7 linked regions of the Homo sapiens genome follow. The protein of the gene in region 4 interacts with the protein of the main gene of each other region in a pairwise test. Each region holds a gene or a part of one and is shown on either strand. Other genes may lie near its edges.

Region 1 (3,500 bases), on a different chromosome or scaffold from region 4:
GGTTAAAGAGAAATCTGAAAAACCTCCACATCTTCTCAACTAGCATCCCCCTTTGTAGTTGAAGAACTTGACTGGTTTGAGAAAGTCAAAGCCCTTTGTGAGTAGCATTCTTTAAAGCACATCATAATTTGAAAAATGGAATCTCAGAAACAGGTCCTAAGACTGAGTTTGGATGTGGTCACTGGTATATCCCTTCCTTTCATGAAGAAGTCTAGAAAGCTAAAGCAAGATGGGTAAAATTAAAGTAAGAAAAAGCTTTGGAAGCAGAGATCTCACTTTGGAATTCCATGCAGTGTACATCTCAACATTTGTTCAAGTTATTTATGATTTATGTTAAATGCATAATATTTTCACTAGTTGTTATAATAAAAATTTTCCAGCCAGGCACAGTGGCTCATGCCTGTAATCCCAGCACTTCGAGAGGCTGAAGTGGGTGGATCACAAAGTCAAGAGATCAAGACCACCCTTGGCCAACATGGTGAAACCGTCTCTACTAAAAATACAAAACTTAGCTGGGCGTGGTGGCATGTGCCTGCAGTCCAGCTACTTGGGAGGCTGAGGCAGGAGAATCACTTGAACCCGGGAGGCGGAGGTTGCAGTGAGCCAAGATCACACCACTGCAGTCCAGCCTGGCGACAGAGTGAGACTCTGTCTCAAAAAAAAAAAAAAAAAAAAATTTCCTCACAGTCTTTAATACTGTAAGATGTTATAAAATACCTTTATTAGACATATGCATAGGCACAATTAAATTCCACCAAAACTGTAACTGCTAAAATCTATATAATCCTAAGTAACATATCTGAATGAATACATGTCTTACTGAAGGAAAAACTATTAAAACTGTGAAAACCACTAACCTTTCATAATATAAACATATAAAATACTTAACTGTTCTATTCTACAATATGCATCTAAAATGTCTTTACATCAGTCTTTTCTGTTGAAAATAACACATTGGAATTTGGGAAGAAAAAAAAAAAAAAGTTATGTGGCCAGGATAGAAAAACCTGACCAGAAGAATTGTAGCGAAAACCACAGGAATATTTCATATCACATAAAAGTACCAATTCAAAACTCACCACCCCTTGTATCCTAACTTAGAGAGATCATCAACAGAACCTATGAATAAAGATGTTTAAGTCTCCAATAGCCAATGTGAGGTCACTTGAAATAAAGGACAATTTACTAGTGGCATAAAATACATGCTTTGTACATCGATATATGTTCTCCTATTTTCTGATACATAAGCACACAAAATAACCATTTGATAGTCATTTTCTAGTATCCAACAAGACGTTGCAACTTAGTTTAAGAAAAAAACAAAAAAACCCTTACTACTCTAATTAGCTAAAAGCTACGTAACTACTTCATAACTATGATTATGTAAAAAGGAAGGTAACTATTGGAGACACTTTTTAAAAAATGAAGAAGGAAGCAGAGGAGTCTAGAAGGATAGGGACAGGAATTGCTTTACTTAGTACAATGGCTGTCTATAATACAAATTGCAGAAGCAAATGGAAGCAGTATTATTCTCCACAAACCTGTACAGCTGAAATTGGTTCCAAAAAGTTATAAAGCAGGGTAGACGACTTCTGTGGGAAAATCTACATGAAAGAGTAGCCAAAACTGAAAGTACGCTAGGTTAGGCTGGGAATTTAAGAGAAAGCAACAAATAAAGATGACTAAACAAACTGAATCATGGCCAAAGGTTACATATTGCCTTAGGTTTTTTCTTTTGTAAACAGTAAACAAGATAGGCATTTTAGAAATAGGCTGCCTTTGTACTATAAGACCATGCTCTAAGATGAAATCAGAAATATCTGAAATTAAGGCAAGTATCAAGATAATAAGGGGGAGAGTAGGTCCTGAAAGACATGAAGTGCCCCAGTAACAAAGACAAACAAAAAGTGTCTCTGTCTGATTAGGTTTCACAGCATTGTTTCCTACCTTTTTAGGTGAGAAAACCCCTAGGGTTCCTCCATCTTCCCGAATGGCAACTCCCATCTCAGCCAACAAAGCCTCTCTAGGAAAAAAACAGGTATATCAGAACACTAATACCAAAATGTCAATTAAATCAGTCTAATATGAATTGGAAAATAAAGCCTGCAAAGCAAAAACAACTGGCCATGTTTATAGCCAATAATGCAAACATAAAATAATGTGCTTATCTCATCATTAATGAGAAGTTATTTCTAAAAGCAACATCACATTCAAAATCAATGAAATCTTGCTTTGTTAAAGTTATATTCACTGAGATAAGAACTTTGTCTCAACTGACTTTGGGATAGTCAATAATTCATAAATGATATGCATATTAATATAAAAAAGAAAAGAAGAGGCTATTCCTTTTTTTTTTTTTTGAGACAGAGTCTTGCTGTCACCCAGGCTGCAGTGCAGTGGCACCATCTCGGCTCACTGCAAACTCTGCCTCCCAGGTTCACGCCATTCTCCTGCCTCAGCCTCCCGAGTAGCTGGGACTACAGGTGCCCACCACCATGCCCGGCTAATTTGTTTTGTATTTTTAGTAGAGATGGGGTTTCACCATGCTAGCCAGGATGGTCTCGATCTCCCGACCTCGTGATCTGCCCACCTCAGCCTCCCAAAGTGCTGGCATTACAGGCGTGAGCCACCGCGCCTGGCCAATATGTTCCATTTTTATGAATCCCTAGCAACATGTAATATGGTAACTAATAAACCTGTGACTCCCTAGATAATATTTAAATATGTAGATGTCATTTCAAAGCATAAATTCAACTGGCCATAAATCCCTGTCCATTTTTTTGGTTTCGTTTTGTGTTTTAGAAGGGCAGACTCTTTGATTTTAATTTATATTTTATCTTTTCTTACGATAAAGTAATCCACATCCCCTAGAAAACTTAGAAACATTTCCAGATTTTAACCTCCTGACCTCTCCATTCTGATGGCCTCTGTTTTACGAAGCTTCTCTTCCCAAGTTTCATTCAACTCAGCAATGATCTTCTCTGATTCCTAAGGAAGGAAGCGCACAGTTAAAGAGGCAAAGAGTCTTATAATTTAACATACCATGCTAGAAAAGCAAGAAGCAAATCATGCCCTTTGAGGATACAGGCCAGAATTAAATGTAAAGAGATTTTTCTTTTATTAATACATAAGATAAGAATCATAAAGATTAGACCTAAAACTAAATCAACCCCAAACAAATAAATCCTCCAAGTCTTTTTTTTTTTTGAGACGGAGTCTTCCTTTGTCACCAGGCTGCAGTGGCGCGATCTCAGATCACTGCAACCTCACCTCTGGGGATCAAGTGATTCTCCTGCCTCAGCCTCCCGAGCAGCTGGGACTACAGGCACGTGCCACCACGCCCAGTTAATTTTTGTATTTTTAGTAGAGACGGGGTTTCACCATGTTGGCCAGGATGGTCTCAAGCTCTTGACCTCGTGATCCACGTGGGCATGGTGGCAGGCGCCTGTAATCCCAGCTACTCAGGAGGCTGAGGAAGGAGAATGGCATGAACCCGGGAG
Region 2 (3,500 bases), on a different chromosome or scaffold from region 4:
CTCAAAAAAAAAAAAAAGAAAAAAGACAAAGTGTTTGTACCAAAAAGATGCTAAAGTCAGGCACTGTCTTTGACAAAAAGATAGCAGTGGGCCAGGTGTGATGGCTCGCGCCTGTAATGCCAATGCTTTGTGAGGCCAAGGTGGGAGGACTGCTTGAGGGCAGGAGTTCAAGACCTCCATGGGCAATATAGTGAGACTCCTGTTTTTTTTTTATACAAAATTTTAAAAAATTAGCTGGATGTGGCGGCGTGCCCCTATAGTCCCAGTTACTTGGGAGGCTGAGGTGGGAGGATCACCTGAGCCCAGGAGTTCAAGGTTACATTTTGCTGTGATCATACCACTGCATTCCACTTTGGGTGACAAAAAAAAAAAAAAGCAGTGGGACCAAAATATAATCTTATAACATTATGATTATCTTCCATGTCTTATCATACCATATCTTAAAAGTCATACCATGGGAAAATTCAGAGGGTATTCTTTCATTAAAGAAACTTGTTGCCAGATGTGGTGGTGTGTGCCTGTAATTCTAGCTACCCAGGAGGCTGAGGCAGGAGGATCACTTGAATCTTGGTGTTTGAGACCAGCCTAGGCAACATGGTGAAGCCTCCCATCTCAAACTGCTCCCTTATGGGCCGGGTGCAGTGGCTCACGCCTGTAATCCCAGCACTTTGGGAGGCTGAGGTCGGGGGTTCACCTGAGGTCAGGAGTTCGAGACCAGCTTGGCCAACATGGTGGAACCCCATCTCCATTTAAAATACGAAAATAAGCCAAGTGTGGTGGCACACGCCTGTGGTCGCAGCTACTCGGGAGGTGAGGCAGAAGAATTGCTTGAACCCAGGAGGCGGAGGTTGCAGTGAGCCAAGATCAAGCCACTGCACTTCAGCCTGGGTGACAGAGCTAGACTCTGTCTCAGAAAAAATAAAAATAAATAAAAGATAAAAAGAACATTCTAGAAGGCAAGCTTTTGCAAAATAATGTTGCAGTAGATACCTTTTGGGTTTGTGCCCAGCCTCTCTCTCCCTCTAATAGGTGGGGCCTTGTATATTTGTATCATGTGTGATTTGTATCATGTGTGATTCCCACTCCCAGGTACTGGATCAAGAATGAATACCTGGCCAGGCATGGTGGGTCATGCCTGTAATCTCAGCACTTTGGAAGGCTGAGTTGGAGGATTGTTTGAGCTTAGGAGTTTGAGACCAGCCTAGGCAACATAGCAAGACTCTGTCTCTACAAAAAATTTAAAATATTAACTGTGTATGGTGGTGTATGCCTGTAGTCCTAGCTACTCTGGAGGCTAAGGTGGGAGGATAGCTACAGCCCAGGAGTTCAAGGTTACAGTGAGCTATGATTGTGTCACTGTATTCTAGCATGGGGAGCAGAGCAAGACCCTGTCTCTTAAAAACCAAAAACGGTGCTGGGCGTGGTAGCTCACGCCTGTAACCCCAGTACTTTGGGAGGCCGAGGTGGGCAGATCATGAGGTCAGGAGATCGAGATCATCCTGGCCAACATGGGAAACCCCGTCTCTACTAAAAATACAAAAAAAATTAGCTGGGCATGGTGGCGCATGCCTGTAATCCTAGCTACTTGGGAGGCTGAGGCAGGAGAATCACTTGAACCGGGGAGTCAGAGGTTGCAGTGAACCAAGATCGCGCCACTGCACTCCAGCCTGGCAACAGAGCGAGACTCTGTCTCAAAAAAAAAAAAAAAAAGAAAAATGGATACCTGACCCAAACTAAGCCAACCAGTTTTCTACCTTAGGAATTTGAAACAAGGGCCCAGAAATACCAGTTACGTGTAGATAGTACTAGTGTTGAAGTTTGGAAGTGAAAGCTCTATGTATGGGATAGCTATTTCCCATGTGATGCATGTAGCTGCAGGGAAGTCTTCTCTGCAGTAAAACATGAAGCAGACACAGAGAAAAGTAAAAATAATGATCATGTAGCCTCATAGTGTCAGAAAAACTACCCTACTGGTTATCCTTTCTCATGAATTACATTGGCTATTTCATTATTTTCCTAATAAATTGCACTTTTAACTTAAGCTTTTTTACTTATTACAAGAAACTGAAACATCCTTAGAAGTCTTTCCTTGACCATTAAAAAACAAAAACAAGCATTGACAACCTAGTTTATGTAGGCATTATGCTTATATCACTGAGTTCTTAATATAGTTTAAGAAAACTAGGGCTCAAAGAGGTGGAAGAGCTGAGATTTGAGCATGTCTTAACTCAAAAGCTTATTTTCCTTTCATAAAACTAAAAGGTTTCCTTTTTCTCATGTCTTTTTTTTTTTTTTTTTTTTTGAGATGGAGTCTTGCTGTGGCGCCCAGGCTGGAGTGCAGTGACGTGATCTTGGTTCACTGTAAGCTTCACCCCCTGGGTTCACACCATTCTCCTGCCTCAGCCTCCCAAGTAGCTGGAACTACAGGCGCCCACCACCACGCTTGGCTAATTTTTTGTATTTTTAGTAGAGACGGGGTTTCACTGTGTTAGCCAGGATGGTCTCGATCTCCTTGACCTCGTGATCCGCCCGCCTTGGCCTCCTAAGGTGCTGGGATTACAGGCATGAGCCACCGCGCCCGGCCGCTTTTTCTCATTTCTTATGCTTAGATAGATGTTTTTAGCTGAGTTATGGTTGACTAAACAATAAAACTTATCAGCCAGTCCTTTACCATGGGTTGCTCACTGTGCATTAGGTATACCATTTGTTCTTCATTGCAAATTTCCAACACAAAATATATACCTGAGATCCTGAGATGGATTGATCATTCTCTTTTTTTAAAGACGGAGTCTCACTCTGTCACCCAGGCTGGAAGTGCAATGGCATGATCTCAGCTCACTGCAACCTGCACCTCCTGGGTTCAAGTGATTCTCCTGCCTGGGCTTCCCAAAATGTTAAGATTACAGGCATTAATCACCATGCCCAGCCTCAATTTTTAGATTCTTTTTTTTTTTCTTTGAGACGGAGTCTTGCTCTTTCGCCCAGGCTGGAGCTGGAGTGCAGTGGCACCATCTCGGCTCACTGCAAGCTCCGCCTCCCAGGTTCACGCCATTGTCCTGCCTCAGCCTCCCGAGTAGCTGGGACTACAGGCGCCCGCCACCATGTCTGGCTAATTTTTTTGTATTTTTAGTAGAGACGGGGTTTTACCGTGTTAGCCAGCATGGTCTTGATCTCCTGCCTTGGCCACCTAAAGTGCTGGGATTACAGGTGTGAGCCACTGCGCCACCAATTTCTAGATTCTTAAGCAATTTCTATTTAGAATTAACTTTAAAGTGGGAAAAAAAACTGTAAATGTGTGCTGTTAGTAATCCCACATCTTTTTTAGAAATCAGTACAAAAGTAAATGTTCTAGAGAAGCAATAATTGCATTTTTGTTAGGGCAGTAAGCTTTTAGTAACATATTTTTAACATAAATTTGAAAAGCATTATGGGATTTTGGTTAATTTCTTAATCTTTAAAATGAGTTGGATAAAAGGTCAGGACATTCTTTTTGATTAAGT
Region 3 (3,008 bases), on a different chromosome or scaffold from region 4:
GAGCCTTCAAAGTTGAGGCTGCAGTGAGCTTTGATTGCGCACTCCGGCTGGGGCAACAGAGCAAGATCCTATCTCAAAAAAAAAAAAAAAAAAGATGATAATCCTCCAATTACACATATTAATTTCAAAAAGCTCATAGATTAATGTGAACATTTTTAATTAAGCAAGGCCTTGTTCTTTTAGTGCAAGAGCACTCAAACTTTAGTTTCTAACAATTACTTGGGGAATTACTTTAAAATACTGGTTCCAGGACCTCTGGTTTTATAGGTCTTAGATGGAGCAAAGGAATCTACATTTTAATAAGAACCTTAGGTCCAGAGCACACTGAGAAACACTAAAGTTGGTAGAAGTGTACAATCAGTTTAAAGGTTTCACATTATATCTACAGGGGCCGATAGTTAACAGACAAACACATACTGTAAAGTATGGACTTGAAAACTTTAATTTGCATCAGAATCACTGGGAGAACCTGTTAAAATGTAGAATCTTAGGCTCCATCTTCCAGAGATTCTGAGGTGTAGCAATTTAAACTTTTAAACAGGTGATTTTCCCAAGGCTTGGCAGTTTGAAAAGAAAAAAAAAAAGGAAAAGAAACAGGTGATTGTTAACTTTTGGATCACAAATTCTGATGACAAGACTAAATCCTTCAGACCAAAGAAAGATATCTTCAGAATCCAGAGACCTAATTCAACGTAAGTAACCACCTCCTAAACACTTAGAAAAGTCTTGTTTTGCACAAATCTCATCCTCACCTGTATTTTGGAGCAATGCTTCATCTTGTCCTCCTGAGGTATGGTATTGGTGACTACTACTGCCTCAAAGCATGCGTTGTTGATGCGAGAAATAGCAGGACCGGAGAAGATTCCATGAGTCAAGATGGCATAAACTCTGGTGGCGCCAGCTGAGAGAAGTCTAGAGGGAAAAAATGTTGATTTGGATTCATCTTACTTGTCATTGCAGAATTTTAGTCAGGGAGGAGTATATTAGCCTGCTTAGGCTTCCACAACAAAATATCATATGAAAAAAAATAAAAAAATAAAAAATATTATAAGGCACAGTGGGTTAGGGGAAAAATTTTTTTAAGGAAAAGAAAATACCATAGAATGGGTGGCTTAAATAACAGAAACAAATTTTTCACAGTTCTGGAGGCTTAAAGTCCAAGATCAAGGTGCAGACAAAGTAGGTGTCATGCTGAGGCCTCTTCTCTTGTAGGTGGCCACCACTTTGCTGTGTGCTCAGATGACCTCTTTGTGTGTGAGTGTGAGTGTGTGTGCACGCATGCGTGCGCATGGGGAAATGCTGGCCAGTTCTCCAGCATTCTCTTCTTATAAGGGCATTCATCCCATTGTAAGGGCTCTGCCCTAGTGACCTCATCTAATCCTAAATACGTGCCCCTCAAGGTAACTCCAAATACCATCACATTGGGGTTAGGCCTCAACATATATGAATTTGGGGAGGACACAATTCAGTCCATATCGAGAAAGAACTGCACTAAGAACTTATCTGAATAGGTCTGAATTAGTGTCAAAGGACTCTGGCATAGACTGTTGCACTTAACAAAATCCACTTCCTCTTCTTTCTGGGCACATAGCTGAACTACATTTCCCAGCCTCCCTCACATAGTTCAGTGTGGCCATGTGGCTTAATTCTGGCTATTAAAATGTGGGCAGACACAATGTACATCAGTTTTTGGTTGGACTTAACAAAAATCTTCCAGGGGTGATCCTCTGTGTTCTTTTCCTTTTCTGGCTGGCCAAAATTGAAATGTCTTCCAAGGTAATCTTGGAAACCCCATGTTAAAGATATAGCACCAAAGATTGAAAGAATCTGAGCTCCTAACTATTGCTTAGAAAAAATGAGTCCAACAAGAACACTTGCATTGGAGTGTGCCATGGACAAGAAGGAAACTATCATGTTAGGGAGTTGATCTGTTATAGCGACTAGTATTCCCGTACTTGTACAAGGATGAAATGGGTTTTATGAATGTTTACTCCAGGATCCCAAACCAAGAATCATTCACCCCAATTTTTTTTTAGCACCTATTATGTGCCAGGCACTGTGCAAGGCACAGACACAAGAAAGTTTAAAAAAACCATTCTCAGGGCTGGGTGCTGTGGCTCACAGCTGAAATCCCAGCACTTTGGGAGGCTGAGGTGGGAGAATTGCTTGAGCCCAGGAGTTCAAGGACAGCCTGGGCAACATAGTGGGACTCCTTCTCTACAAAAATAATAATAATAATAATAAATAATTACCCAAGTGTGGTGGCACTTGCCTGTAGTCCCAGCTACTCGGGAGTCTGAGACAGGAGGATTTCTTGAGCCCAAGATTTCAAGACTGCAGTGAGCCGTAATTGTACTACTACACTCCAGCCTGGGTAACAGAGTGAGACCATGTCTCAAAATAAAAATAAAAGTAAAAATACCATTCTAAGAAACAATGCTGCTCATAGTGGCTTGGATTGTTAGTAATGAGGGGCCACTTAAAATCTTAAAGAGTGATGGGATCGAGCCTCAGTTGCAGGAAGATTAGCAAGCATGGAGAGATGGAGTGGGGAGGTGAGAGAACGGTGACTGGCAATGGAGAACAGAGTGGGGAGGCAATTTAGAACACTGCAGGCAAGAGATGACAAGTAATATAAACATTAACCTATCACAGGATTAGAGTGAAAAAAAGAAGTAATAATGAACAAAAGTAGCAGCCGGTAAAACAGTCGAGAAGTAAGACCAAGGGTTCCGGCTTAGGTAAAATAAAAATATGAGCACACACACCTGTCTGCTCAGGATTTTTATTTTAACTCATTAAAACAAAAAACAATCGCATGTAGCATACTCAGGGTGATCAAAAAACTTTGATGATCAGGCGATGGTTGTCTAACATTGTGAATATAGTTAATGTCATGGAATTATACACTTAAAATAGTTAAAATGGCAAATTGTGTTATATGTAGCTTAGTACAATATAAATTTAAAAAATAAGAAAATCTGAAAAAAAAATAAGAGTACTCAACA
Region 4 (3,500 bases):
ACATAGATCTACATCATTCTTTTTAACTTGCTTTTTCCAGCCTCCGAATGGCCCTGGAGTGTGAGGGTTATTTGTACCCCACAAGAATGCTCACCTAGAGAAACACGCCATTGAGTATGTTCTCAATAATTAGGTAGATAAAACGACCAGCTGTGTGTGTGTCAGGTTTTCTCCAGTCACCCTGGTGCTTGCTCAGTGGCTTCATAACGAAGTGATCATGGCGGCAGCACAGAAATTATCACATATGGACTCAGTGACATGAACTTCCCTCACTAAGACTCACCTGGCTATTGGCAAATTTGAGTTTGCCATCAGAAGTGACCAATCATAAGCACTTGATAGGGTGACCTATCCCTGGATGTACTAGTCAGCCATCTGGTGGTAGGATAATTACATTGAACCCCTTCCATCATCAAAGAGATAACTTATCCTCATAAGATTAGACACTTCTTCAAAATAGGGATTTCCCTTCCCTTCTCACCGTGCCTCTGCAAGTAACATCATCAGTAAACTTACTAAATGTCTCATTCATTGCCATGACGTATTAAACAATATTATTTTTGACTAAGGAACTCAATGTACTGCAAAAGACATTGGGCAACAGTTGGTTGAATTCAAATGATTCACCGTATTGATAGAATGTTAGGTTTTGCCATACTTACCGAACATTAGGATGGCTTACTGAATATTCAATTATGGCTAAGTGTTGTCCTAAAGAGTGTGGGACACGCTCTGAACCAGTGACCAATAAATAGATTCCCCCTTAGCCAGAATGCATGGTCTGAAAACCAAAGAGTGGAAGTGGGAGTGGTGCGTCTTACTGTTATACTTATGGTTACACTTGAGAAAATTTGACTCCCTCCCCAGCTACCTCGAGCTTTGGTGGTTTAGAGGTCAAGGGAGAAATGCTTCCATCAGGGGGTACAACAATGGTTCCAATTGCATTGGAAGCTGAATTGATAATGATGTGGTAATTTTGGGCAGGATGACTGATCCTGAATATCAAGGGCCAGAGGATATTACACAATGATGGGGGAAAGGAGTATTTCTGGAACCTGGGGAACCTTTTGAACACCTAGTATTGTCTTCAGTAGCATGGAGTTAATGAAACACTATAGCAGCCTTACACACAGGCAGAACCACTAAGAGCTAAGATCTCTTAGAACATACTTTTGGGTTGTTCTATCAAGTAACATACTCCTACCAGCTCAGGTATTTGCTGAGGGCAAGGGAACTTGGAATAGGTAGTGAAGGAAGGAAATTATTATTATTTATAAAAGCATTTTTAATTTCAATAGTTTTTGGGGAACAGGTGGTGAATAAATGAATAAATTCTTTACTGGTGATTTCTGAGATTTTGGTGTAACCATCACCCAAGCAGTGTACACTGTACCCAATGTGTAGTCTTTTATCCCTCACCCCTTTCCCAACCTTCCCCCTGAGTCCCCAGAGTCCATTGTATCATTCTTATGCTTTTGTATCCTCATAGCTTAGCTCCAACTTCTAGGTGAGAACATACAATGTCTGATTTTCCATTCCTGAGTTACTTCACTTAGAATAATGGTCTCCAACTCCCTCCAGGTTGCTGTGAATGCCATTATTTCATTTCTTTTTATGGTGAGTAGTATTCCATGGTATATCTATGCCACATTTTCTCCATCTACTCGGTTAATGGGCACTTGGGCTGGTTCCGTATTTTTGCAATTGCGAATTGTGCTGCTATAAACATGTGTGTACAAGTGTCTTTTTCATATAATGACTTCTTTTCTGGAGGAAGGAAATTATAACACCAATGATAGCCTCATGACCAGGTGTGGGAATGAGGACTACAGTCGCTTCTCCTATTTTCTGCCTTGATGTGTCTTATATACTTTTATGTATTTTCTTTTTTCCTCTTCATTTTCCTTATTATTTCATATAGGATGCATTGGTGATGGTTAACTTTATTAGAGAGCATAGGTATAGAATATTGGGACAAGATTACAACTGAACTAGACAGGAGTGGGCACTTGGAATTGGATATAGCAAAGTTGGAAACCACTTTCCTTTGGCCTCTGCTTTTGGGGAGGTGAGTATATTTTCATTTGTATGAAAATTGTTGCTTTTTTGTTTTTTTTAGACGGAGTCTCACTCTGTCGCCCAGGCTGGGGTGCAATGGCACAATCTTGGCTCACTATAACCTCTGCCTCCTGGGTTTAAGTGATTCTCCTGCCTCAGCCTCCTGACCTCATGATCTGCCCACCTTGGCCTCCCAAGGTGCTGGGATTACAGGCGTGAGCCGCCGCGCCTGGCCGCATTTTCTTACATTGAAGCAACGGTCCTCCAACTTTGCTGCACGTTGGAATTATCTGAGGTTATCTTGTTAAAATGCAGATTCTGTTTCAGTAAATCTGGGGTGGAGGCTGAGATGTGGCATTCGCCATTTCCTAGGTGATGCCGATGTACCGTGTATTGAATAGAAAAGCATGCTATTGTTGCTGCTGTTGTTTAGAGTGACAGTCCACTGGCACTCAAGACTGTCATCTTTACAATACCCTCTCTACATTTTGCTAGTTTCCCACATTTGGAACACCCCGCTTCCCAGCCTTCCTAGCAGCCAGGGTGCAAATGTGCCCTAAGTTCTGCCAATCATCCATATCTATACTAGATTTTGAGTTGACTGTGAGTAGCCTGAGAACATGAGCTTCATGAGGGGCATCCAAACCACCAATAAGGTTGCAGGAGAGGTGTCCAGTTAAAGAGGCACTTCTTCCCTGATGAGGCCAGTCCTGGGAGTGAGTCTGGCCACTATTCCTGGATGCCGAACAATGAGCCTATTTCTCTAGGCATCCCACAGTTTTGTCTCATAATCTTGCTCTTTTTTCTTTCTTTCCGTCTTCTTTTTTTTTTTGAGACGGAGTTTCACTCTTGTTGCCCAGGCTGGAGAGCAATGGTTAGTTTAAGAACAGGATTGCCGGGCGTGGTGGCTCACGCCTGTAATCCCAGCACTTTGGAAGGCCCAGGTGGGCGGATCATGAGGTCAGGAGATCGAGACCATCCTGGCTAACACGGTGAAACCCCGTCTCTACTAAAAATACAAAAGATTAGCTGGGCGTGGTGGCGGACGCCTGTAGTCCCAGCTACTCGGGAGGCTGAGGCAGGAGAATGGCATGAACCTGGGAGGCAGAGCTTGCAGTGAGCTGAGATCGTGCCACTGCACTCGAGCCTGGGCAACACAGCAAGACTCTGTCTCAAAAATAAAAACAGGATTGGCCAGGCGCGGTGGCTCATGTCTGTAATCCCAACACTTTGGGAGGCCGAGGCAGGTGGATCACCTGAGGTCGGGAGTTCGAGACCTGCCTGATCCACATGGAGAAACCCCATGTTTTAGTCTCTACTAAAAATACAAAATTAGCTGGGCGTGGTGGCACACGCCTGTAATCCCAGCTAGGCTGGGAGGCTGAGGCAGGAGAATTGCTTGAACTCAGGAAGGGGAGGTTGCAGTGAGCTGAGATCATGCC
Region 5 (3,500 bases), on a different chromosome or scaffold from region 4:
TAGACTACAATAGATAGTATTGCTTAGTTGAGTACCAAATTTTATTAATGCAGATAATCCAGCTAGTTTAATTTTGATTTAAAACCTTTTTCCTGTCATCCCAACAGCTGTATTTTTACCTATGTGTACAGACATGTTTCATCTCTAGGGTTAATGGAAGTTTTACTATTTTAACGGTTTCTTCCCTCCTTAAAATTCTCTATCCTAGTTATCAGGCAAAAAATGTTTTGGGGCATGCTATTTATCCAGTCTAATAAAGCTAACTGGTAATATTCATCACCTAAAGAGTGATGAATTTAACACAAACAAATTAAACGAATTATTGGGGAGGCAGTCTTTTCTTTTGTTCAGAATTCATAAGGTTTGTGTTGTTAGCATGGTGTATTTTTAAAAGAATGATAAAAATAATCATGTTTAAAGAAATAAATTTACTTTAATGGTACTTTCAAAAAGACTAATCCATAACAAATTAAGTTATACTGTATTTCCTTTGCTACCCAGAACCACAGGGCTGGTTGTCAACACATATTGAAGAAATGTAAGCAAAATACAGAAAGTGATGATTTTCAAAAGGAAGAGAAGAAACTCCTTTTCAACAAACACTTTATATCATTTATTAATGCAGTATACATTAGATCTAAAATCTGCAGTTTCTAAGCACACCATGTTTAGATCTTTCAGATCCTTCTGCAGTTTTAGGTTATTTCTACAGAGGTACCTTTAAGTGAATGAATACCACATTCTGTAATTCCTGAAAATATAGTACAGAGTGAAATGATTTAAATATAATTTAGGCACATATTGATTATGAAAATAGATTATCTCTCAATACAATACTTCTCTGTCTTGGTAAAAATAATAAAGCAAAGAAAATAATTCATTTCTGAAGTTGCTTTCCTTCACTTGTAAAGGTCTGATCTCCTCCCACTATGCATATGTACCCTTTACTGTTAAGGAAAGCTTTGCATATGTAGATATAGAAGAATAAGCTACGTAAATACTAAAGATATGTCATTCTCCCAAAGGAGACACAGGTGGTTTTCAATGATTCCTTGCCTCATGTTGATGAGTCTGTAGAATTCAGAACCCATTTGGACACAGCTAATATCCCTGCTCTTGGGGTAGAAAATAAGGACACCAAGTCATTGGTAGGGAGGTACAGGCCCTTCCTCTGCTGCTGCAGAGAGAGAATGACTCAAGAAAATTGGGCTAAAATTTGTTTAAAAAAAAAAAACCACAAAAAAATAAGTAAAAGAATCACAGGTGCTGACTGATTGATAATTACATCTTGGACCAGCCAAATGCCTTTATTTTTACGTCTATTTTTTTGGTGGCTGTAATCAAATGTGTGTTTAAAATTCCTCATTCCCCACTGTAGGGTTCTAGCTGCAATTATATTACATTGCCTTTTAGCAGGCAACTCTACCATATTCACTCATATAAGCTTTGATTGCAGTAGCTCTGGATTTAGTATCTATTTCTAAGCTGGCCCTATGTAAACTATTTGGTATTTGAATTAAATGAATATTAATGATGCACCTTGGTTTTTTTGGTTTTGAAGTATCTTCCTATGCTTGTGATGACTGTATGAGAAAACTAGGCTAATAGTGTAAATAGATAGAATTGCTTGATCTGGTGTTGAGTGGAACTTGCCTAGAATGAAATTCTGAGAAATTCTCATTTGTAAGTGTTGTAGTGATAGGTAAGTTATTCCTCCATCCAGAGTTACACTGTACCTTTGGAATGACAGTGATGTACAATGATGTCTTTCTTTCCACTCTGTCTCAATCAGTAAGAACTGGATATTACTTTAATTTAGCTACTGTTCTGTCCTAAAAAGTAAACATTATAAAAATGAACCTGAAAAGAGTCTTAGGGAGTCTGATCTCACCATATTCATACGGTGTGACAGGTATTTAAAGAGGGGAGGCATCACTAAAGCTATTTATAAACCTGAACAACCTTTTCCAAGTTTTCATAAAGTTTTAACAATTTAAATATCCATACTGCATCTAGGAATTCAATAAATATAATTGCATATGTTGTGCTTTCCATAAATTAAAATCCTCAAATGCATCTCAAACCAAGATGGTATTTCCACATCATGCCTATTTAAAAGCAAATATAATAGATACTATGCCTGGTCATAAAACCAGGTAAACCCCCCTACCCCATTCAAAAGGCAGCAATATCTAGTTTCCCTACATCTATTAAATGAGTGCTTTTCTGTTAAAAATCAGAATATGGAAAAAAAGTCAGTTTTTTCCCTTATGCACCACTCAAAACAAGCATAATCCTCTAAATGTTTTTTTTTTAAATTTCCTTACAGTGTTATTTCTTCTAGACAACTGAGTGGGTGGAGAAAGAAAAGTGATAAGGAAAACATTTTCATCTTTTACATCTTCCTCCAGCCCCTAAAATTCTCATCTGACACTTTGTGACATGTGTAGTGGTGTCAGCATCTCTTCAAATATAGCTCCCTTCACGTTGGACCCTCTCAGGTTGGCTTCTTGAAGATCACACCCAGACAGATCACAATTCTGCAAGATGAAAACAATATTCATGTAATTCATGTGGAAATTTCAGGCCTTATCTATTTCTGCTCAAAATGATTTCTGGGGCAGATTAGGAAAATGTTCTTATACAATAAAACTCAGTTAATTTCCGGAAAACTGATGATACACCACCCTAAATTAAGATGTTCTTCTATCTTTATTTGTTACCTCTAGTTCAGGCTGATCACCATAAATATGTATAAACAAAGGTTAAAGAGGAAGCATGTCCCTTGTTCTTGCATATTTTATAAGGAGACATTGAAAACAGGGGTCCCCAACCCCTGGGCCACAGACTGATACTGGTCCATGGCCTGTTAAGAATCAGGCCACACAGCAGGAGGTCACCAGTAGATGAAGCTTCATCTGTATTTACAGCCAGTCCCTGTATGGCTCAAGTTACAGCCTGAGCTCCACCTCCTGTCAGATCAGCAGGGGCATTAGATTCGCACAGGAGCGTGAACCCTATTGTGAACTGCACATGTGAGGGATCTAGGTGGGGTACTCCTCATGAGAATCTAATGCCTGATGATCTGTCACTGTCTCCAACACCCCCAGATGGGACTGTCTAGTTGCAAGAAAACAAACTCAGGGCTCCCACTGATTCTACATTATGGTGAGTTATATAATTATTTCATTATGTATTACAATGTAATACTAGTAGAAATAAAGTGCACAATAAATGTAACGCGCTTGAATCATCCCAAAACCAGCCCCCGACTCTGATCTGTGAAAATATTTTCTTCCACAAAACCAGTCCCTGGTGCCAAAAAGGTTGGGGACCACTGATTTAAAATACAGAATGGATTCCAACATAATAAATACACACACACACACACACACACACACACACACACAATTTTTTTTTTGAAACGGAGTTTTGCTCTTGTTGCCCAGGCTGGAGTGCAATCTCGGCTCACTGCAACCTCCACCTCCAGGATTCGAGCT
Region 6 (3,500 bases), on a different chromosome or scaffold from region 4:
ACCACAATGTGTTAGTACACAAACTCTAAAATGGCTAAAATGTTGGAGATTAGAGATACAGAAACTGTTGTATACTACTGATGAGAGGATAAATTGGTATAACCAATAATAACTAATAATTATGTAATGCATCCACTAAAGCTTAATATATACATCTCCTATGATCTAGCAATTCCATTACTAGGTACATAATGTAAACAACAGCAATGCAAACATACATTCATCAAAAGACATGTATAAGAATGTTCACAAAAGCAGTATTTTTGTGCCACAAATAGCATTACTATTTGTAGTAATACAAAATAGCATTACAGATAGCATTACTATTTGTAATGGACCCCAAACTGGAAACGACCCAAATGGATAGCTGGGATCACAGTAGAATGGAAATTGTGTTTACTCACAAAAGAATACTAGATAACAATGAGGATGAATTAACTACAACAGTAGTTAATTAACAATAATTAACAGTAGTTAATTCTGGAACAGTATGGATAAATTTCTCAAACAATGGTAAACTAAAGAGGACAGAATCGAAAGGGTATATACACTGTACACTTCCAGTCACAAAAGCTCAAAATCAGGCAAAACTCATTTATGATGTCAGAATTCAGCATAGTGGTTATATTTGGTGGGAATGCAGTGGAGAGACAGTACCTAGAAAAGGGAATAATGGGAGGTTATAGGATGCAGGTAAATCTTTTGTTACTTGCTGTTTACACATGTTCACTGTGTGAAAATTCGCTGAGCTGTACTCTTAATGATTTGTGTGCTCCTCTCTGTATTGTATCTAATTTTTAAAAAATTCAAACAGTAAGAAAAAAGCCTTTGCTAACACAAATTTCCTGTCTTGCTGTCAGTTTGGAGTTTACAAACTATGGTCACCATACTTAATACCATATATAGCAATAGTGACATCCAAATATTTGATTAAAATTCTCTCTATAAAAAATAGCTTTAAATTATGAAAAATAAGTACTTGAAATCAAACTTCATCAAAGAAAAACTGTATTGCTACAGGAAATATCAAGTTCTGTACTTCTAATATGATTTAATGGAAGGAAAGGACAAACTGTTCAGTACAAATTTAAAAATCACTTAAGGCTAGGCACAGTGGTTCATACTATAATCTCAACTGTTTGAGGGGCTGAGGTGGGAGGATCACTTGAGCCCAGGAGTTCAAGGCTACACGGAGCTAAGATTGTGCCACTGTATTCTGGCCCAGGTGACAGAGCAACATCATGTCTCTCAAAAAGACACAAAATAAATAAAAATAAAAACAAAAATAAACATAACTTAAGTCATAGGACGGATCAAATTCCACATGGACCAAAAGAATTGTACAATGACAATGAGCCCACGTAAGATTATGCATTTTCCTGCCTTGCCCTTATCTCAAACTATCCCCAGCCACCTCTCTCATCAAGCTTTAATCAAAGCAGAAGTTCACTTTGCCATAATCAAAGTTCAGCGGTATTGAAATCTCATGATTTGGCTGGGCATGGTGGCTCATGGCTGTAATTCCAGCACTTTGGGAGGCCAAGGCAGGTTGATCACTTGAGATCAGGAGTTCGAGACCAGCCTGGCCAACATGGTGAAACCCCGCCTCTACTAAAAATATAAGAATTAGCCAGGTGTGGTGGCAGGCGCCTGTAGTCCCAGGTGCTCAGGAGGCTAAGGCAGGAGAATCACCTGAACCCAGGAGGCGGAGGTTGCAGTGAGCTGAGATTGCACCACTGCACTCCAGCCTGGGTGACAGAGTGAGACTCTGCCTCAAAAAATAAAAAATAGGCTGGGCGTGGTAGCTCACGCCTGTAATCCCCGCACTTTGGGAGGCTGAGGCAGGTGGATCACGAGGTCAAGAGATCAAGACCATCCTGGCCAACATGGTGAAACCTCGTCTCTACTAAAAATAAGAAAATTAGCTGGGCATGGTGGCACATGCCTATAGTCCCAGCTACTCGGGAGGCTGAGGCAGGAGAATCTCTTGAACTCAGGAGACGGAGGTTGCAGTGAGCTGAGTTCGCGCCACTGCACTCCAGCCTGGTGACAAAGTGAGACTCTGAAGAAAGTTCGTGCCACTGCACTCCAGCCTGGTGACAGAGTGAGACTCCAAAGAAAGAAAAGAAAGAAAGAAAAGAAAGAAGGAAGGAAGGAAGGAAAGAAAGAAAGAAAAGGAAGAAAGGAAGAAAGGAGGGAGGGAGGGAATAAATAAATTAAAAACAAAAAAAAAAATAAAAGAAATTCTATGATTTTAGGCCCAGACTTCATTGTGTTGGGCTCAGAGAATTAGCAAACTGCAGTTCTACAAAGATAATGTATAAAATCACAAAAGAGAACTGCTACCAAATCATTTACCCCCAACCTCCCCAGGTTTTCAAGACCAACCTGAAACTAGTTCAAATTACCAGAGACACTACTAACTACAACACAAATCAGGTATAAACCTAAGGTGCTCTCGGGAATGGGCTATCTGGGGACAAGCTGTCAATCTAGCAGCATTTCTCACCTCCTCTTAGTGCTCTCCGAGCCCTTACTATGAGGTTCAGCAAACACAAGCACCTGAGTAATGGCAATGGCCAGTACTTCTACAGCACTATCTGCCAGGGAGCCTTCTCTACACTCTAACTCTCAGGTTATGTCTATGTTATTATCCCCACACTACAGAGGAGGAAACTAGAGGACAGGGATACTAAGTAACTTGCTCAGGATCACACAGGTAGTAAAAGGCAGAGCTGAGACTCAAACCCAGGCAGAGGTTTCAAAACCTGTGCTATTAGCACTTCAAGTCATTTATACAGAATTTGGCTTCTCCTAAAGCTCAAATGTCCTAAAGATGGCTAAAATCCAGCAATCACAAAAGGGCATAATGAATGCCACAGAGTCAATGCTCAGCATCTTTTCAATCTTTTCAATAATTTTATGTACAACCCCAGCAAGTTTAGATATTATTACCAGTTTGCATTACATTAAAAGCACCAATACAAATGGCACAGTAACTGCACCAAGAAACATCAGCAAGAGGATTAAAAAAAAAAAAAAAAACAAAGCAGGCACCAGAACTAAAACAAACAACAACAAAAATCCAGTAGTGGTCATAAAGTTAGTACAAAGGTTTAAGTTAGGGGTTGGCAAACTCTAGCCCATGGGCCAAATTCAACCTGCCCCAGTAGCTAAGAATGCACTTTACATTTTTACATGGTTGGGAAAAACATGCACAAATAAGAATGTGTGACAGAGACTACAGCTGGCCTGCAAAGCCTTAAAATATTTACAGAAAACTTGTTTACTTTAGATAAACAGCACCATATATATCTCAGAAACTCAAAGCCATCTCTTTATCCATTCAAATATATACATTTTTTTCTTTTGAGACAGGATCTTGCTCTGTCCCCTAGGCTGGAGTGCAGTGGTGCGATCATGGCTCACTACAGCCTCGACCTCCCAGACTCATGCAATCCTCCCACCTCAGCCTCCCAAGTCTACAGGCATGTGCTAAC
Region 7 (3,500 bases), on a different chromosome or scaffold from region 4:
CTTTCCCTGGCAGGTGCTTCACAGAGGCAGAATAGAAAAGTGGGCACAAGTCTGGGCCAGGTTGCCTGGATTTAAGTCCTGATTCCATTGCTTCCAACTGTGTGATGCTGGGCAAATGACTTAGCCTCTCTGTGCTTCAATTTCTTCAACCACGAAACTGAGATAATTTGGGCTGAGGCTAATGTGGCCTCTTCTCAAGACAACCAATAGCTCCTTCTGCTACTGATAGTCACAGGACTCTCCCAAATGGAAGCATCTTCTGCTTTTCATCCCCAGATCACACAGCCCAGGCAATACTGGCGCCCTGAGAGTGAGCGACTACTAGCGTCACACACTCACCTCTAGCAAACAATTTCTCTCTGGGGCACATGAGGAAGACAGAATCAGAAGCACCAGAAGAGAAGTTTCTCAGGCCACAGGAAAACAGAGGTATGCACAGATTTAGACCCAGACAAAGGGCCAAATCTTTCAAATGTAGGCCATCTTAATCACAAGGATGCACAACTCCGGCCTTGACTATGTTCCTAAGTTCCACAGAAAACCACTGTATCTTATACTCACTGTATAAGACACACCAATGTCATCGAAGATTCCTTCTCACCTTTTCACTGATGACAGTCACAGTGGCATCAGCCACGTTCATGTTCACTGACAGCCAGTCCTCCTTGTTGGATGAGGTCATAAGATTTTCTATGGCACTGTTCAAAATATCCATTCCTGGGGACAGAAAAGGATAATTTAAAGTGTCCTAAAGCCACTTACCACACTCAAATGTGGGCCCAAATCACCAATAACAGCTACGCCCAGACTGATCTTTTTTTAATAGACAGGACACTTCATTCTCATGTTTGCTCAACAGGAATGAAATACCAGCTTCTGGCCGGGCGTAGTGGCTCACGCCTGTAATCTCAGCACTTTGGGAGGCTGAGCCAGGATCATTTGAGGTCAGGAGTTCGAGACCAGCCTGGCCAACACGGTGAAACCCTGTCTCTACTAAAAATACAAAAATTAGCTGGACATGCTTGCTTGAACCCAGGAGGCGGAGGCTGCAGTGAGCTGAGATCGCACCACTGCACTCCAGCCTGGGCAAGTATCAGTGAGACTCTGTCTCAAAAAACAAAAAAAGAAAAAGAAAAAAAAGAAATAACAGCCTTTTCAGTAGGAGAGGAGAGTCAGGAGAAGCTCCGGGGACCTGGTGCCTTAGACGCTGTCTACCTATGCAGACCATGGCCCTTCAGCCTCTCTCCACCCTCACTGTCTCTTGATGGCACCTTTACAGTGGATCCCCCCATTGAGTAGGGCCCTTTTGCCAGCTGTTTCCACAGTTTTTCTGGGGGATAGGGGTGGGAGTGACAGCTTTATTGAGGTATCATTCACATGCAATTCACTCACGTAAAGTGTGCAATCCAGTGGATTTTAGTACATTCACAGAGCGCACCCATCACCATCATCAATTTTTTTTTGAGACAGGGTGTTGCTCTGTCACCCAGGCTGGAGTGCAGTGGTACAATCACGGCTCACTGTAGCCTCAGCCTCCCAGGCTCAGATGATCCTCCCACCTCGGCCTCTGGAGTAGCTGGGACTACAGGTACATGCCACCATGCCCAGCTAATTTTTTGAATTTTTTTTGTAGAGATGAGGTTTTGCCATGTTGCCTGGGCTGGTCTTGAACTTCTGGGCTCAAGCAATCCACCTGCCTTGGCTTCCCAAAGTGCTGAGATTACAGGTGTGAGCCACCATGCTAGACCTACCATAATCAATTTTAGAACAGTTTCATCACCCCAAAGAGAAACCCCGTGCCTGGTAGGGGTCATTCTGCATTTTTCCCCCACTCCCCAGACCCCTAGACCAAGGCAACCCTTACCTACTTTCTGACGCTAGAGCTCTGCCTATTTTGGGCGTTTCATATGAACGTAATCACACAGTATGCAGTCTTTTGGGACTGACTTCCCTCATAGCATGTTTTCAGGCTTCATCCACGCTACAGCGCACTTCAGTCCTTCATTCCTTTTTATTGCCAAATAAAATTCCACTGTATGGAAGTATCACATCTTATTTATCTAATTGTCAGTTGATTTGTCAGGACATTCAGGTTGTTTCGCTTTTTGACTCTCATCAATAATTCTGCTGTGAACATTTGCATACACGTTTTTGCATGCACAAACGTTTTCACTTCTCTTGGGTCTACGCCTAGGAACTGAGTTGCTGGGTCTAAAGTAACTATGTTTCACCTTCTGAAGAATGCCAGACTGTTTTCCAAAGCAGCTGCACCATCTTACAGCCCCCTTGGCAGTATATGTAGCTTGCGATTTCTCCACAGCCTTTTTTAGCCCTGGTGAAGGCTTCATCTCCCAGTCTCTTTTTGGCTTGGTATAGCCCAGCAACTACACTCTGCCCCTGGCATGTGAGCTGAATGCTGTGTGTGCCACTACTGTGTCACTCCTTGACAGCATGAAGCCTCCACAGTCCTTTCTCCTGGCCCGCCAGCTGACAAGACACGAAGCAGGTGCCCTGGCCTCAGAGATGGAGGCCTCGTTTCAGAGCAGCGGAGCTCTTCCACGGCCCTGAGTCACACAGCTCTGGACTACTGGGTAAACAAGAAATCCACGTCTGTATTGCTAAAGTCCTGCATGCTGGGGATGACAGGTCAAAGCAGCGGGGCCTGTCCCTCTACTCATCTTTTGATCAGGACCGTTTATGTTCTCTGGCAGGTGACAGTGTGACAGTTTGATTCAAGACAAGGCGTGAGAGTAAACAGCAGACCTCACCCTCCTCGGAGGGCGAACGCCTCCTGTGAGCTCCCGCACACTTGCAAAGTGGAAAGACAATAAACATTTCACATACCGACTGGTTTGTCTACAGGTAACATGCCCAAGTACTGCACGTGGAACTTCTGGACCAGCTCAGTCTTTGGTGTTGGAAAATCTACTACAGGGAACAAAAGCAACACATCTTTCTCAGTGGTTCCAACACACATGTACACAACAGCCGTGGCTCTGCATCATCTGAATGCTCAGGACACGCCCTGTGCCATAACGCCCTATGTTTCTGGATGTAAATGTAACAACTATTCTACAAGAGCAGCATTACTCCAGATATTGGGGCTCTGTTAAAATCCTGTTCAACTTTCAAGATAGGAATGCATGTGAAAGCAGGAAGTGGCATCTATGTGTTAAAGCTGCTACTGTCTCTTTGATGTATATTAAGTAAAGTAGCAGCTTTTGGTGTCCTATTTAATTAGGTGTGGTTGATGCCCAGAGAAAATGTAACCTCAAAGGGCACAATCAGAGACATAGGAAGATAACTGAGTTCCCCCAGTAATCAACCCACGTTTTTTTTTTTTTAGAGACAAGAGTCTCGCTCTGTTGCCCAGGCTGGAGTGCAGTGGTGCGATCTTGGCTCGCTGCAACCTCCATCTCCTGGGTTCTAGCAATTCTACAGGTGCATGCTGCCATACCTGGCTAATTTTTTGTATTTTAGTAGAGACAGGGTTTCACCAT

Evidence for each region.
Region 1: the proteins of SPMIP4 (region 4) and KIF1B interact in binary tests that used the Homo sapiens proteins (3 or more experiments, as listed by UniProt).
Region 2: the proteins of SPMIP4 (region 4) and OIP5 interact in binary tests that used the Homo sapiens proteins (3 or more experiments, as listed by UniProt).
Region 3: the proteins of SPMIP4 (region 4) and PRPS1 interact in binary tests that used the Homo sapiens proteins (3 or more experiments, as listed by UniProt).
Region 5: the proteins of SPMIP4 (region 4) and KCTD9 interact in binary tests that used the Homo sapiens proteins (3 or more experiments, as listed by UniProt).
Region 6: the proteins of SPMIP4 (region 4) and ATXN3 interact in binary tests that used the Homo sapiens proteins (3 or more experiments, as listed by UniProt).
Region 7: the proteins of SPMIP4 (region 4) and APBB2 interact in binary tests that used the Homo sapiens proteins (3 or more experiments, as listed by UniProt).

The regions. Positions count from the first base shown.
Region 1 is NC_000001.11:10,290,570-10,294,069, reverse strand, and holds part of KIF1B (kinesin-like protein KIF1B), read right to left. Parts: intron 2,989-3,500; coding exon 2,909-2,988; intron 2,024-2,908; coding exon 1,948-2,023; intron 1-1,947. UniProt on the Homo sapiens protein: Has a plus-end-directed microtubule motor activity and functions as a motor for transport of vesicles and organelles along microtubules.
Region 2 is NC_000015.10:41,315,592-41,319,091, reverse strand, and holds part of OIP5 (protein Mis18-beta), read left to right. Parts: intron 1-3,500. UniProt on the Homo sapiens protein: Required for recruitment of CENPA to centromeres and normal chromosome segregation during mitosis.
Region 3 is NC_000023.11:107,645,510-107,648,517, reverse strand, and holds part of PRPS1 (ribose-phosphate pyrophosphokinase 1), read right to left. Parts: intron 913-3,008; coding exon 753-912; intron 1-752. UniProt on the Homo sapiens protein: Catalyzes the synthesis of phosphoribosylpyrophosphate (PRPP) that is essential for nucleotide synthesis.
Region 4 is NC_000007.14:25,163,355-25,166,854, forward strand, and holds part of SPMIP4 (sperm-associated microtubule inner protein 4), read right to left. Parts: intron 1-3,500. UniProt on the Homo sapiens protein: Microtubule inner protein (MIP) part of the dynein-decorated doublet microtubules (DMTs) in flagellum axoneme. May serve to reinforce and thus stabilize the microtubule structure in the sperm flagella.
Region 5 is NC_000008.11:25,427,434-25,430,933, forward strand, and holds the end of KCTD9 (BTB/POZ domain-containing protein KCTD9), read right to left. Parts: intron 2,541-3,500; coding exon 2,424-2,540; 3' UTR 414-2,423; downstream 1-413. UniProt on the Homo sapiens protein: Substrate-specific adapter of a BCR (BTB-CUL3-RBX1) E3 ubiquitin-protein ligase complex, which mediates the ubiquitination of target proteins, leading to their degradation by the proteasome.
Region 6 is NC_000014.9:92,100,083-92,103,582, forward strand, and holds part of ATXN3 (ataxin-3 reference isoform), read right to left. Parts: intron 1-3,500. UniProt on the Homo sapiens protein: Deubiquitinating enzyme involved in protein homeostasis maintenance, transcription, cytoskeleton regulation, myogenesis and degradation of misfolded chaperone substrates.
Region 7 is NC_000004.12:40,823,043-40,826,542, forward strand, and holds part of APBB2 (amyloid beta precursor protein binding family B member 2), read right to left. Parts: intron 2,929-3,500; coding exon 2,845-2,928; intron 718-2,844; coding exon 602-717; intron 1-601. UniProt on the Homo sapiens protein: Plays a role in the maintenance of lens transparency, and may also play a role in muscle cell strength. Involved in hippocampal neurite branching and neuromuscular junction formation, as a result plays a role in spatial memory functioning.